Regions from separate parts of the Homo sapiens genome. Here region 1 is linked to region 2. A link means that fine-mapping ties the variant in region 2 to the expression of a gene that starts in the linked region. Tissue or cell type: whole blood. Region 2 holds a variant in brackets; the other region holds the start of a gene. All regions are shown on one strand. Distances are from middle to middle.

What was found. PIP is the estimated chance that this variant, and not a neighbour inherited with it, causes the effect.
Region 1: it holds the start of RUBCN, and the variant in region 2 is fine-mapped to the expression of RUBCN in whole blood (TOPMed, PIP 0.99).

Annotation. Positions count from the first base shown.
Region 1 is chr3:197,732,494-197,740,600 of GRCh38, forward strand. It overlaps RUBCN (rubicon autophagy regulator), which reads right to left and starts at 4,411. Exons shown (of 20, transcript NM_014687.4): 1 at 4,162-4,411. The coding sequence starts at 4,226. RefSeq lists enhancers at 2,709-2,758, 3,689-4,536 and silencers at 4,125-4,674, 7,034-7,166.
Region 2 is chr3:197,700,070-197,708,176 of GRCh38, forward strand. RUBCN (rubicon autophagy regulator) reads right to left here. Exons shown (of 20, transcript NM_014687.4): 3 at 5,023-5,106; 4 at 4,473-4,632; 5 at 3,479-3,585; 6 at 1,639-1,795; 7 at 544-1,077. Among named protein-coding and RNA genes, the nearest start is that of MIR922, 30 kb to the left of the region's middle. The variant G/A (reference allele first, on the strand shown) is at 3,731.

The sequences.
Region 1 (8,107 bases), 32 kb after region 2:
TAGTAGAGACGGGGTTTCACTGTGTTAGCCAGGATGGTCTCGATCTCCTGACCTCGTGATCCACCCACCTTGGCCTCCCAAAGTGTTGGGATTACAGGCGTGAGCCACCGTGCCCAGTGTAGTGTAGTAGTTTTACCAGGCAACCTCAAAATAACTGGCATTTAGGAAACGGAGGGAAAGTGAAGTATCATCCCTAAGCCCCAGAGCATCTGGCTGGAGTGATAGCTAGACGGAAAACAATAGGGAAGCCCATCACCTAAGCACACTACCGGGGAAGTGGGAAGCTAAGCCAACACTCTAGGTCCCAATGTGTTCAACTCGGATGAAGGAGCCACTGAAAGAGGAAGAACAAGTGATACCCTTGCAAACAGTCACTTGTGGGGGAGACCCTCGCCTTATTTCAAAAAAACTAGCAAGGGGTGGATTCGACATTTTTCCTACTTCCTACGTATCAGGCTCTCAGGAGCTTTATGCACATTGTTTTATTGAATCCTCAGAACTTCTCAGGCAGGAAAGCATTATTCTTCCTACTCAGGCAGGTTACGTAAAGTAACTTGATCAAGTTAAGCCAAATTAATCCGTGAACTAGGATTCAAATGCAGGTCTGACTTTAAAGCTTATTCACGTTTCATTATATCAACTACTTAAGGAAAATACACTGAAAAGTTTCATCCTTCATTTTTAAAATGACACTACCGGCTGGGCACAGTGGCTCATGCTTGTAATCCCAGTGCTCTGGGAGGCCAAGGCAGCAAGATCCCTTGAGGCCAGGAGTTTGAGACTGGCCTAGGCAACATGGTGAGACTCTGTCACTACAAAAAATCTGAAAAAATTAAAAATTAGCTGGGAGTGGTGGCACACACCTGTAGTCCTAGCTACTGAGGAGGCTGAGGTGGGAAGATCACCTGAGCCCAGGAGTTTGAGGCTGCAGTGAGCTACGATTGCACTATTGTACTCCAGCCTGAGTGACACAGTGAGACCCTATCTTTAAAATATATAAATAAATAAATAAAAATGATGCTATCTCATCAAGAAGACTGTTTCTGAACTGGGTATTTCATTGGCCATAGAAAGGTTATGTTTGCAGTAACCCAGTCACAAAGCCTCAATTAATAGGCACAAGGAATGTGTATTTACCAGTTGTGTATCTGGAGCTAAGGAGGCCATCAGTACCATGAAGCCTCATTAAACAACGCATTCTGAATTAATCAGCCGCCAACACAGTATGCCTATAACAATGACGGGAGTGACTTTGTGAGGATAACCCCACTACTAAAATTAAGTTTTGATTAAAGTTTTTTGGTTAAGAGGCAATCATAAAAAGAATAAAAGACGGGAAAAGATTCTGCAAAGGAGCTATCCTACTGGCCTGAATGACAGGCACAGAATGCTGTGAAATTTATTCACTATCTTATACTTCCGTTGTTACTATTAGCATAGTGAGAGGCAGCATAGGGTGAGTATTAAAAGTACAGACTCGGGCCGGGCACGGTGGTTCACGCTTGTAATCCCAGCACTTTGGGAGGCGGAGGCTGGTAGATCCTCTGAGGTCAGGAGTTTGAGACCAGCCTGGCCAACATGGCGAAACCCCGTCTCTACTAAAAATACAAAAAATTAGCTGGGCGTGGTGGCGGGCACCTGTAATCCCAGCTACTTGGGAGGCTGAGGCAGGAGAATTGTTTGAACCTGGGAGGCAGAGGTTGTAGTGAAGCAAGACGGTGCCACTGCACTCCAGCCTTGGCGACAGAGCAAGACTCTATCTCAAAAAAAAAAAAAAAAAAGTGCAGTCTCTTGGGCCGGCATGGTCGCTCATGCCTGTAACCTCAGCACTTTTGAGAGGCCGAGGCTGGAGAATATCTTGAGCCCAGGAGTTTGAGACCAGCCTAGGCAACATAGTGAGACCCTGTCTAAAAAAAGAAAAAAAAAAAAAAGCGCAGACTCTGGTGCCGAACTGCCTGGGTTTGAATCCAGTTCTGCCAGGGATTCGCTGTACAACCTTGGCAAGTTACTTACCCTGTCCATTTCTCAGCTTTCTCATCTGTGACACAGCAATAACAGTAGTACCGACCACATACAATAGTTATAGGGATTAAAGAAGTTAACGCAGTATTCATATCTTAATACCTTAAAACAATTCCTGGCATGTGGTAAATAGCATTTGTTACATACATTAAAAAAATAACTAACCCAGCCTCCCTCACATGAAGTGGTAGAGGGAAATCAAAACAATCCTAAAACGTGTTTAGAATTTACATGGGACCTTTCACACGAAGCACGTCACAGACATCTGCAGGAAGAATAAATAGTCAAATAGGCAAAGCAGAAACTGAAACATGGAAAAGGGAAGTAAGATGTTCAGTTTCACTTAGCACAAATCATTCTCAGATCTCAGGCAGGAGCCCCAAAGTCCTGTCAGTCCAGGTTTTGTTCAACAGGCCACTTTGCACATAAAAGTAGAGTCACCCTTAAAAATAGCAAGTCTTCACCCAGGAACATCTCATAAATCTTCCCTTGTTGATATTTTCTCAGAGGTAAATATTCTGCTTCTAGTTTTTGGATCCCAGCTGCTCCTGAGACCATCATTATATCTGAAACTGTTTCTAAATGTCAAGTGAGGTCAGGCCTGGTGGCTCACACCTGTTAATTCCAGCACTTTGGGAGGCCGACGTGGCGGGGGAGAATTGCTTGAGCCCAGGAGTTAGAGACCAGCCTGGGCAATATGGTGAGACCCTGTCTCTACAAAAAAGTTTTTTAAAGTAGCCAGATGTGGTAGCTGGCACCTATATCCCCAGCTACTTGGGAAGCTGAGCTAGTATAATCGCTTGAGCCCAAGAGTTGGAGGCTGCAGTGAGCCGTGTTCACGGCACTGCGCTCAGCCTGGGGGACAGGGTGAGGCTGTGTCTCAAAAAATAAAATAAAAATAAAATAATAAATGTCAAGTATGACTCCCTTAAGCCACATTCCTGCTCTCGCCTGTCAGCATTCCAGCCTCTTTAAAAAAGATTAAGACCAGAGTTATTAATGAAGCAAACCCTAAATATGGAAGGCATCTCTACAGACTCCGATTCATCATTTAGTCAAAGTAGTTCGGGGTTTCTTTGGCTTTTTGTTTTTTGAAGACAGGGTCTTCCTCTGTCACCCAGGCTGGAGTGTAGTGGTGCGATCTCGGCTCAATGCAGCCTCGACTTATTGGACTCAAGTGATCCTCTCGCCTCAGCCTCCCGAGTAGCTGGCACCACAGGTGAGCACCACCACGCCGAGCTAATTTTTGTATTTTTGTAGAGACGGGGATCTCCCTAGGTTACCCAGGCTGGTCTCAAACTCCTGGACTCAAGCGACCCGCCTCAGCCTCCCCCAAGGTGCTGGAATTACAGGTGTGAGGCACCGCACCCGGTCCAAAGTAGTTTTTATATTTTAAATCCCCCAATTTCTAGAAGATATGAGCTTTCTGACATGGTTCCATATAAATAAATGTGAACTTGCTTAGTTTGCATTGTGAGGAAAAAGGGACAGGTTTGAAGACGAAAAGGAAATGGCACAGAGGTCCTGCCACTCTCTGACAGGGATTCGGCAATGACAAAGTGCAGAGTTTCTGGTCTCATTAGCAGTCCCCGCCCCACCGCACTGCCATGACACTCGCTCACTTTCTCCCCAGGCTCTCCTCGCCTTCATCCCCATGCTCATCTCTGCCTAAGCTTCTTCCGAGGCCACTCATAACGCTTCACCTCTGCTCCCAGGAATTCTCACATCCTCTTCGCGTTGGCCCCACTTGCTGTCACGGCAAGTTTCAGTCCGGGTGGTGCCCTGCCCCTGTCTATAGACTCTGGCCTGTAAAACCTCACTGCACCCCTCTGGCCTCTTCGCCCAGTCTCTCAGCTGCCACCTCCTCTCCAGCAGTCTTGGATCTGAGCTTCACCCTCCTCTGCTGCCCTTGCCCTCCGCAAATCCCACCCACCCTCCTCACCCTAAGCCGGTTCCTTCGTCCCATCCCCGCCCCGCCCGTCCTTCCTCTGCGAAATGCTTCCCAAACAAGTCCTCCGCAGCCGTCGTCCTCAAGACTCGTCGCGCCCGGCCCTTCTCTCCGTGACCCCGCGCCCTCCCAAGCCTCCCGGGGCTCCGGCGCCTGTCGCTGCCCCGACTCCGCGGCGGCTCCCAGCCCACCTGCTCTCCTCAGGCAGGCGCTCCTCGCCGCCTCCGAGCTCCATTCCCGCGCCCTCCGGCCGCATCCGGGGCGGTGAGGCCGCCTCTTCGCCCAAGAGAGGCGTCCCTGCCGCTTCGCCCTTCAGGGCTCCCGGGGCCCCCTGGGGCCGGAGGAGGCACCTGCGGCCGGTGGGCTCCGGGTGATGCGCTACACCCGGGCGGCGACAGCGGGAGGGACCGCCGCCTGGGCTGCGGCTTCTATCCCGGCCACCCCCACTTCCGGCTCCGGGGACTACAGCCCCCGGCGAGCACTCCGAGGCTAGGCCGCTCCCGCAGGACGCGTCCTCCAATCCCAGGCCGCGCTCGCAGACCGCGCCCCTCCAACGGCAGGCCGCTCCCGCAAGCCGCGCCCTCCAATCCCAGGCCGCTCCCGCAGGCCGCGCCCTCCAATCCCAGGCCGCGCTCGTGGATTACTACGCACCCGGTGGTTGGCTGGGCCGGCTTGCAAGCGGCGGGGGACCTTGGTCTCAGGAATCCGTGCCGGGGCGTATCCTTATTCACCCCCGTGACATTACACGCTGGGGACCGAACTCAGTCCGAGATGTAGACTAGGCAATAACGCTAATCTAATCCCGGTACGATTAACCCCACTCAGCCCGCCCTGGCTTAATGTCCGCTGGTGGTGTTTGGAGACCTCGAGCATTTAAATGAAGCGCTCACAAACAAGAGCACAGGTTGCTTTGGGATCATAAAAGAGCAGGAGAGAAAGGCTTCTGGGGGCTCTCGGAAGATGGATGTCAACGCAGAGTTTTCAAGGCTGAGTACGGGTTAGCCAGGAGAAAGAAGAGAAGGTGGAGAGAGCAACACGGCAGATACAAGGAAGGAAGTGCTGGCTTGGGAACTGCAGGTGCTGGGTAGCCAGAGCTGGGAAGGAGTGAGCAGCAGCATGGTGTGGGCATTCTGGTGTGGGGAAACCAGATCATGAAATGCCATTTTAAGGAGTTTGGATTTTATCCTGAAAACAATCAGCAAATCAAGCATATGCAAATCAAGAAGTGATTTGATCGAATCTGATGAGAAAGCCACTTTTGACAATGTGGACAGGAGATGGGGCAGATATAATACTATATTGAGGTAACGGTGGAAGGCTAGATAGGAGACTGGTCATCCTTATGGGGGATAACCAAGTAATGCTAAGAAGTGAAGCGAACCAGTTGAAAGAAACGTGGGCCTAGGGTTGCCAGATACTCTGGTTTCTCTTTTTTCTTTTTCAAAGACGGGGTCTCTCTCTGTCGCCCAGGCTGGGGTGCAGTGGCGCAATCATAGCTCCCTGCAGCCTGGAACTCCTGGGCTCAAGCAGTCCTCCTTCCTCAGCCTCCTGAATAGCTGGGACTACAGGTGCGAGCCACCACACCTAGCTATGATATTTTGATTTTTTAAAAGAAGCTAGGATCTGCATTTTTAAGCACTACTTCCAAATTTTTAAACGTTGGCAACAAATTTTTTAAACTTTCAACTTTGCACAGGCCAAACACAGCTTGTCTGTAGGCTGAAGGTGGCCCTTGAGTTGCTAGTTTGCAAACCCAGGCTTAAACTACAGCAGCGGTTGAAGAGAACAAGGAGGCTCAGATTACAGCAATGTGAAGGCAACAGAATCAGCACTACTCTATAAAGGACTGACTGTGGCAAGTGAGGGAGAAAGAGCGATCAAGAATAACTCCGTGAAAAACTAATGACTCTATATTAAAATAATATATGGCTTTTAGGTATTTTCAAACTTGACAAAAGTGTTTTGGCAATTAAAAATGAAATGAAAGAGCCTCTTGAAGCCATTTATGATTTCATTTAGGTTAAAAAAATACTCTCTTTCAAACTTTCTCATTTTCCTACTAAACGATTATACTTCTTTAAGAAAGGGGCAATATTACTCATTGGGATTTCTCTTCCTTCTGTGACTTTCTTCTCTTTTGGAGACGCAGTCTTGCTCTGTCACCCAGGCTGGGGTGCAGTAGCGCTGCCACAGTTCACTGCAGCCTCAACCTCCTCAAGCGGATCCTCTCACCTCAGCTTCCCAAGTAGCTGGGACCACAGGCAGTGCCACTATGCCCAGCTAATTTGTTTTTTTTTTTTTAATTTTTGGTAGAGACAGGGTCTCACTGTGCTGCCTAAGCTGGTCTCAAATTCCTGGGCTCAAGCAGTCCTCCTGCCTCAGTCACCCAAAAAGTATTGGGATTACAGGCATGAGGCACCATACCTGGCCTTACTTCTAGTTCTATAAATGTATGAACTTTATTTTTTGGCATACAGTATAATCCCAAATTAACACTATATTATTTATTTATTTATTTTTGAGACAGAGTTTCACTCTTGTTGGCTAGACTGGAGTGCAATGGCGCGATCGGGTTCAAGCGATTCTCCTGCCTCAGCCTCCTGAGCAGCTGGGATTACAGGCATCCGCCACCACGCCCGGCTAATTTTGTATTTTTTAGTAGGGACAAGGTTTCTCCATGTTGGTCAGGCCGGTCTTGAACTCCCGACCTCAGGTGATCCGCCGGCTTCGGCCTCCCAAAGTGCTGGGATTACAGGCGTACTAAAAAATACAAAAAAATTAGCCGGGCATGGTGGCAGACGCCTGTAATCCCAGCTACTCAGGAGGCTGAGGCAGGAGAATGGCTTGAACCCAGGAGGCAGGGCTTGCAGTGAGCCGAGATCGTGCTACTGCACTCCAGCCTGGGCGATAAGAGCAAGACTTCGTCTGAAAAAAGAAAAAAAAAAAAAGGCCGGGCGTGGTGGCTCATGCCTGTAATCCCAGCACTTTGGGAGGTCAAGGCGGGCAGATCACGAGGTCAGGAGATGGAGACTATCCTGGCTGACACGGTGAAACCCCGTCTCTACTAAAAATACAACAAAAAATTAGCCGGGCGTGGTGGCGGGCGCCTGTAGTCCCAGCTACTCCGGAGGCTGAGGCAGGAGAATGGCGTGATGAACCCGGGAGGCGGAGCTTGCAGTGAGCAGAGATCACGCCACTGCACTCCAGCCTGGAAGACAGAGCTAGACCTGGGCGACAGAGGGAGACTCCGTTTCAAAAAAAAAGGCAATCAGCTTTATCAGGAAATCCTAGGGGCCAGAAGCGGTGGCTCACGCCTGTAATCTCAACACTGGGAGGCCCAGGCAGGCGGGTCACTTGACACCAGGAGTTCGAAACCAGCCTGGCCAACATAGTGAAACTCTGTCTCTACTAAAAATACAAAGAAAAAATAGTCGGGTGTAGTGGCACACGCCTGTAATCCCAGCTACTTGGGTGGCTGAGGCATGAGAATCGTTTGAACCCGTGAGGTAGAGGTTGCAGTGAGCTGAGATTGTACCACTGCACTCCACCCTGGGTGACAGAGTGAGACTGTCTTGGGGAGAAAAAAAAGAAATCCAAAAACTAAAATTGTAGCAAAAAGGCTGGAAAACAGGCTTTTTCTCATATGTCCAAGTTCAAGTTACATGTACTGGATTTTCTTTAAAGCCATTAATAAACATGACAATAATCTGCACTAGCCATGCGTTACCTATCCCATCCCTCTACTTTCCCTCATAATCCTGAACCCCTTCTTTTGTTTTTTTTTCTTTTGAGATGGAGTCTCGCTCTGTCACTCAGGCTGGATCATGGATCCACTGAAAATACAAAATACAAAAAATTAGCTGGGAATGGTGGCAGACGCCTGTAATCCCAGCTACTCGGGAGGCTGAGCCAGGAGAATCTCTTTAACCTGGGAGGCGGAGGTTGCAGTGAGCTGAGGTCATGCCATTGCACTCCATCCTGGGCAACAAGGCAAGACTCCATCTTAAAAAAAAAGAAAAAGAAAAAGAAATTTTGTAGTATAATTGGCAAAATTTGAACATGAACCATAATTGGATAATAGTACAGCATCAATGTTAAATTTTCTAAACTTGGTAATTTTAGCATGGTTATGTTAAG
Region 2 (8,107 bases):
GCCAGGGCCTCCTTATCTGACGGCCTCTCACCCTGAATCAGTGATGCGGCCGTCAGCCCCACCGACTCAGTTGCTGGATCGCATCACCCTGCACTCACTATAGCCTTCGTTTTAATTAGAAACCCCAGTATCTCTCTGCCTCTCTCACATTGGTATTATTACACCCTGGGCAAACTTCTAAGACGTCACAGGAAATGACAGAACTTAATGGGATTATTTTTAAAGCTCAATAATACTTTCCCCAATCCAAGAGATACTTTGAAAACTCGCACTATGAGTCACGCTATCCTCTGATGTTACCAAACTAGTAAAGAATCCAGGAAAACATTTAATATTAGCAATGTATAAAGAAACAAACATAAATAGACTTAGAGATTTTGAGTCTCAGTATTTCGTTATAAACTTCTTTCATTACAAAATAAGATGTTGTATCACCAGAAACAGAACATCTCTTTCTGCCACCTGAAAAGTCCCCATAACAAGCCCTCTCTTACTCTCAATTCAGGGTCATCTTGCTAACTAGCAGCCGGTGTTCCTCATTACCTGGAGCTCCCCTGGAGGCAATGCTGGTATCCGAATGGGAGCGAATGTGGCTTTTCTTTGCCCCACTGGTGACAGTGAGTGTCTGCCCCTCTGAGAAGCTGGACCTGCGGAGGACACTGGACAGCTGGCTCTCCCCACCTCCTTCCTGGTCCCCTAAGGAAGAGGCAGCAGAATCTGGCTTCTGGGAGCTGCTGGAGGAGAACAAATTGGAACTGCTGCTCTCGGCATTGCTGCTGTGACTCTGACAGCTGGCAGTCCGGCCTCGGGGGTCCAAGTTGCCAATGGCCAGGTACTCAGGCCCCTCACTGGCATCACCTGGGGAATCATTCTGGCTGCTGACCCAGGATGCCTCTATGGGGCTGGTCAGAGTACTGGAGCTCATTTCATTTGGGGTCAAAGGGGAATCCCTGGCTAGTGCAGAGACTGAAACTGGGGGGGCTTGGATGGTTTGATCCTCTGCTGGTGAGACGTGCCCTCTGCTTTCTTGAGGTTTCCGGGGAGGGCCAGAGAGTGGAAAGGAAGTAGATCTTCTCTCTAGAATATAAAAGGAAATGGTAAGGGGAGCAAGGGTGAGGTGGAATCCTGCAGTATGTATGAAGGACTGGGTGACCAGGACATACGATGTCACCTCAGAAACGGCAAGCCAAATAAAGTACAAAATTATTTAGAAGCAGCTAAGTCAAGAGTATGGGCTCCTGAGACAGTGCTTTATTGCTTATTAGTATGCATTCCTCATCTGAAAAATGAGCAGTAAGAGGACTGTTTGAAGGCTCAAATGGGATAACACATACAAACTGAACACAACAGAGCCTAGTACATGATTGGCAATCATTCGGTGTTAGCTAGTATTGAAATGCCTTCTTGGCAATGTGGATTAGAAACCCAGGGGAATCTACAAACATCTCTCTCTTCTGTTACTTCATGATTCTACTGAATTATTTCAAGCTAGTCACTATATAACTTGTAAAGATGTCCCTTATTAAGAAAAACTACCAACCCAAGTCTCAATTTTCCAAGCCTATGAGCAACCACAAAGTCTTCTTACTTTCCAGGGCTGGGGATAAATGTAATGACCACTTTTTCCTGTCCCCATACCTGAGCCATTGTTGGGCACGGATTGGTGGAGGCTAGAGAAGGACCCAAAGTAGGAATGCTGAGCATAGCTGTTTGGAGGGGTGTATGTGGAACTGGGCAGGGCTGTCAGGCTCTGGCTCTTTGTCACCAGGAGCGGGCTCTCGTGCTTTCTGGCAAACTAAAAAGCAAAACAAAACCAAAAAATGTGTCAGAGTTAAGGACAAAGGGCCTCAGAGTGGGGGCAACGCAGTACTGCAGAAATGCCATAGAAGCTACCTTTGCAGTAGGCCTGGACTTTAGCCAGAGCCTGTAGATACAGCAAGGCTACCTTCTACTACAGTATGTAATTTACAACTGTGAAACCACAGCATCTGCACTGGAATCCTTCCAGGTGTTAAACCAGGAGTACTTTATTACAGAGGCAGCACAACAAAGTGCTGATGTATGTGGAATCAGAAGTCAGACAGACTAGGGTTCAAATCCAGGCCCTGACACTTATCAGCTATTTGATCCAAACTTTGGACCACGTATCTACTCTGTGCCTCAGCAGCCTCCTTTATAAAATGAGATCAATGCCCACTTCACAGGGTTATGAAGAGTCAATGACATGATACATTTATCATACATAGCACCGTGCCTGGCACATACAAAGTATTAAATGGATAGTAACCAACAATCAAAATTAAACGAATCAGGCCGGGCACAGTGCCTCACACCTGTAATCCCAGCACTTTGGGAGGCCAAGGCGGGCAAATCACTTGAGGTCAGGAGATCGAGACCAGCCTGGCCAACATGGTGAAACCCCGTCTCTACTAAAAATACAAAAATTAGCTGGGCGTGGTGGCGTGCACCTGTAATCCCAGCTACTCGGGAGGCTGAGACAGGAGAATCACTTGAACCCGGGAGGCGGAGGCTGCAGTGAGCCAAGATCATGCCACTGCATTCCAGCCCAGCCTGGACAACAAAGTAAAGACTCTGTCTCAAAATAATAATAATGATAATAATTAATTAAAAGAATCTGGAGAGATAGGGGATCTGCTTCTCTAAGAAGTGGGGACTCTGATTCCATTCTAGCTAAGGCACTGACTGGAGTATTAGTGATGGGATAAGTTAATTTTAGGCAACAAATTTTCTTTGTACTATAAAATTTTCTTTACATCAAAGAAAAAAACATGAAAAAACTGACCCCGTGTAACATTAAGCTATGCCAGGTCTGACACTAAACTCTATCCGATTCAAAACCATCCCTCTTTTCCCCAGATCTTTGTCAAGGCTTGGTATCCTTTGTCAAAAGATACCACAGGTTTAACAAAATCTACCTCCCCACTCCCCAGCTTAGGTCTACTAAGCACACGACCTAAGCCTAGACTTTCTACTTCAATAGGTACTTAACAGTACCTCCCCTCCTCCAAGCATTTTAAATGAAAGCTGGCCGGGCGCGGTGGCTCAGGCCTCTAATCCCAGCACTTTGGGAGGCCGAGGCGGGAGGATCACGAGGTCAGGAGATCGAGACCGTCCTGGCCAACATGGTGAAACTCTGTCTCTGCTAAAAATACAAAAAAATAGCTGGGTGTGGTGGCGGGCGCCTGTAATCCCAGCTACTCGGGAGGCTGAGGCACAAGAATCGCCTGAACCCAGGAGATAGAGGTTGCAGTGAGCTGAGATTGCACCACTGCACTCCAGCCTGGGAAACAGAGCGAGACTCTGTCTCAAAAAAAAAAAAAAAAAAAAAAAAAAAAAAAAAAATGCAAGCCTTTCAGCTCACAAAAATGGCTAAGTGAAAAAGTTTGCTGTAGAGGGCTACATCCTGCTGAGCTCCAGGGACCCAGCATAGACGTGGATAATTCCTTGTCCCCTGTACCATGGACGCATCGATCTGAGCCAGGAGGCGGGGGTTGTTCTGTTCCACTGCTTCCAGGCACTGCAGCATGGCCGTGACATGAGCGTCACTTAGCAGGAAGGCAGCATCTGGGGAGAGAAAAGCTGCCACAGTGATAGAGCCCATCAGGGAGGCCTTGAGAGAAGCTTGAGGAAGCAGAAAGGGAGAGGTAAGGATGAATGAGGAGGAGGGTGAAGGCAGATCAGAAACAAAGTAGAGGAGAAGCTGAAGAAC[G/A]CGAGGTGCAGCAAAATGGCCAGGGCAAGAGGCTTCAACGTCAGAAAAATCCAGATTTGAATCCTGGCTCTGAGTGACTTTGGCCAAGTCGCCTAACCTCCTGGAGCCCTGTGGATTGGAAACAGTAGCACCAATGCCCAACTCTCGGGGCTGCTGTGAAGATACTGGACAGCAGTGACGGGCACACAGGAAACTCGTGGTAAATGGTGGCTATTCTTACGGTTTGTGTGTGTGGCCGTAGGGGACGACCTTAACATAAAGCTGGATTGTGTCTTACTTGGGAGGTGAGAGGTAAGTCTGGATATATGTTTCTGAGTAGAATCCCTATGGCATCAAGTGAAAAACAGGAGGCCCTGCCGGGCACGGTAGTCACGCCTGTAATCCCAGCACTTTGGGAGGCCAAAGCGGGCAGATCACCTGAGGTTGGGAGTTCGAGACCTGCCTGACCAACATGGAGAAACCCCATTTCTACTAAAATTACAAAATTAGCTGGGCATGGTGGCACATGCCTGTAATCCCAGCTACTCAGGAGGCTGAGCCGGGAGAATTGCTTGAACCCAGGAGGCGGAGGTTGCAGTGAGCCGAGATCACGCCATTGCACTCCAGCCTGGGTGACAAGAGCGTAAGTCCATCTCAAAGAAAAAAAGAAAAATAGGAGGCCCTGGTACCAGAGGGGTAGAGGATAGTGAGGTGGGTGACAACGAGGAAGCACAGATGACAGTCCTAAGTGGCCTCTACCTACCTGTGTAGAATTTTCTGATATACTGTCTATCCCCGAGCAGGGGCCGGAGCTGGGCTGAGAGGCAGTGGTACTGCAGGCTGTGCTGCAGCCACAGCTCGGCAACAGCACGTTCACTGGCACCATCAGCACTGCTCTGGTCGTTCTCGTGCACGCTGATGAACTGGGAAGCAAAGGGGCATGAGTCAAAACACACATCCTGGTAGATACGGCAAGATTGAGGCCTAATGACCTGAGAACTAAATTGAGACAGGTAAGGGAAATGCTTTGAAAGGCTTCACCCTGGGTCCCATGTAGGCAGGCTTTTTTGAAAATAGCAAAACTTTTTTTCCCTTCCCCAGAGGAGAAAAAGTGGCCTGGACCAATGGGTTTGCATGTTTTTTTTTTTTAAGCAAATAAAGTCAGTCCCTACAGGGATAATTAATTTCCTTTCCTCAGCTGATAGGCAACTGGACATATTCCCTCCTTGGAGCCTAGAAGATTCTTCTGACAGAGCCTCAAACAGTGAAGACCCACAGCTCTGCCAGCACAGCCGCTCTGCTCTCACTCTTACCTTCTCCACGTGAAGGGCTGAGTGGGGACTGAGCCACCGGATGTCTTTCACGAACTGCCAGTAATCCGTCTGGCGGCGGCACGCCTGCAAAGGGAACACATACAATGAGCAAATCACGACCATTCTGGACCAGATCTAGTTCTAGGGTTGGCATTCAAAGATAGGAAAAGGACCACAACCTTCCCTTGCCTCATCAAAGGTTCTTAGCAGCAATCAAAGGATACACACAGAGGCCAGGGGTGGTGGCTCACACCTGTAAACCCAGCACTTCAGGAGGACTGCTTGAGTCCAGGTAGACTGGCCCATCTCTACAAACAATTTAAAGCTTACCCCGAGTGGTGGGACATGCCTTAGTCCCAGCTACTCAGGAGGCTGAGGTGGGAGAATCACTTGAACCTGGGAGGTCAAAGCTGCAGTGAGCCATGATTGTGCCACTGCACTCCTGCCCAGGCAACAGAGTGAGACCCTAACTCAGAAAAAAAAAAAAAAAAAAGAAAAGGAATTAAAAAAAAAAAAGGAATACTACACTTGACATATGTTTACCCTTTTAAAGAATAATTGTTAAAGATTATTTTAACCATTCTTTTGAACAGGTAACATATGCATATGACATACAAGGTATACAGTAAAAATAATGTTTTCTTTTTCTTTTTGTTTGAGACAGAGTCACTCTGTCACCCAGGCTGGAGTGCAGTGGCGTGATCCAGCTCACTGCAACCTCCACCTCCCATGCTGAGGCGATTCTCATGCCTCAGCCTCCCGAACAGCTAGAACTACAGGCACATGACATCACGCCTGGCTAATTTTTGTATTTTTAGTAGAGATGGGGTTTTACCATGTTGGCCAGGCTGGTCTCAAACTCCGAGCCTCAAGTGATCTGCCCGCCTTGGGTCACTTGTGTTGGGATTACAGGCATGAGCCACCGTACCCGGCTGAAAATAATGGTTTCTACTCCTTTCTCTCTACCGTTCTGTTTTCTAAAAAATAATTCTTAAAACTGGTAAAGAGCTATTGTTAAAAGCCAGAGCTGGATGTCTTTAGCCCCTACTGCAAAAGCAAAATCAAATAAGGAAACATCTACTTTTCCACGCCACCCAGGTCAGGGAAGAGCTGTGGAGGCAAAGAAATGCCCAGACCAGATGAAATGGTCTCACGCTGGGACAGGCCTCAACATGCAAAATGTTTGTACCATAACAACCCAATTGTTGTTTTTCGATAACCTTTTCTGAGACTACTGGGTAGGGATTAAAACTAAAATCTAAATAATTAAAAATATATAGAGCTAGCACAAGTATCAAGAGACAGACCAGGCCAGGCACGATGGTTCATGCCTGTAATCTCAGCACTTTGGGGGGCTGAGGTGAGCGGATCACTTGAGCCCAGAGTTTGAGACCAGCCTGGGCAACATAGCGAGACCCCATCTCTACTAAAAAATCCAAAAAGTTAGCCAGGTGTGGTGGCACATGCCTGTAGTCCCAGCTGCTTGGGAGGCTGAGGTGGGAGGATCACAAGAGCCCAGGAGGCAGAGGTTGCAGTAAGCCGAGATCGTGCTACTACACTCCAGCCTGGATGACAGAGAGAGATCCTGTCTTAAAAAAACAAACAAAAAAAGAGACAAAGACCAATCAATGGTACAAAATAAATAGCCTGAAAGAGACCTTAAGATATATCAGAACTTAATACACGATCTAAAACCACCTCAACAGTCAGAGGTGCTTCTTTGTAAAAAGTCTTTCTTCTCGCCTCTATACTGCGAGGGTAGAAGTGAGAACCGGAAATGTCAGATGTGCAGGCTCTTTTGACAATAAACATCATGAAGACCTTCAGTATTCTGGTGGTAGTGCGGCAGGGACTCTGGTATCTGGTTGAGTGGATTTTAAGTGGCCAGCCAGGGCTGGGCAGCCGTGGGACATCAACTCCAGCATGTCTCTTGGTTACATCATTTTTAAGTGAAAAGCGTGTAAAATTGTGGCCGGGCGCGGTGGCTCACGCCTGTAATCCCAGCACTTTGGGAGGCCGAGGCAGGCAGATCACGAGGTCAGGAGGTCAAGACCACAGTGAAACCCCGTCTCTACTAAAAATACAAAAAAATTAGCTGGGCGTGGTGGTGGGCGCCTGTAGTCCCAGCTACTCGGGGGGCTGAGGCAGGAGAATGGCATGAACCCGGGAGGCAGAGCTTGCAATGAGCCGAGATGGCGCCACTGCACTCCAGCCTGGGTGACAGAGCGAGACTCCGGTCTCAAAAAAAAAGAAAAGCATGTAAAATTGGTTTCTTTTCTTCAGACAAAATTTTAAACTAACTTAAACCCTTAAATAAACTACTTTTTTGTTTGGGAAAAAAAATGGAAAAAATTGATTATTCAAGAAATATTGTTGAGAAAATTGGCTGGCTAGAAGTAGACCAATTTAGGCATTCTCCTCAAATCATAGAAAATAAATATGATTTATTTTATAAATTCCAGAATAAATTCCACCTGTATTGAAGAGTTAAAAAGGAAAAAGGAAACTACAAATCCACTAAGAAAAGTAAGGATATTGGATTTCTATGCAGATAAAAGTTACAATGTTTAAAAGCAGAAGTGCAAATCAAGCCGGGTACAGGGGCTCACGCCTGTAATCCCAACAATTTGGGAGGCTGAGGTGGGAGGGTCACCTGAGTCAGGAGAAGTTCGAGACCAGCCTGGTCAACATGGTGAAACCCTGTCTCTACTAAAGATACAAAAATTAGCCGGGCATGGGGCACATGCCTGTAGTCCCAGCTACTCGGGAGGCTGAGGCAGGAGAATCACTTGAGCCTGGGAAGTGAAGGTTGCAGTGAGCTGAGATCAAGCCACTGCCCTCCAGCTTGGGCAATAGTGCAATACTCTGTCTCAAAAAAAAAAAAATAATAATAATGCAAGTTCTGATTCAGCAGGTCTTTCCTTGCTACAAAAGTGCAAATCATAAAGGAACAGAGAGAGGGATAAATTTTATGAATAAATTTCTTTACATAAAAAAAGAATGTTTAGCATTTTTTATGATAGCAAATAAAGAAAAATATGTAAACAATTTTTTTTTTTTCCAAGACGGAGTCTTGCTCTGTCAC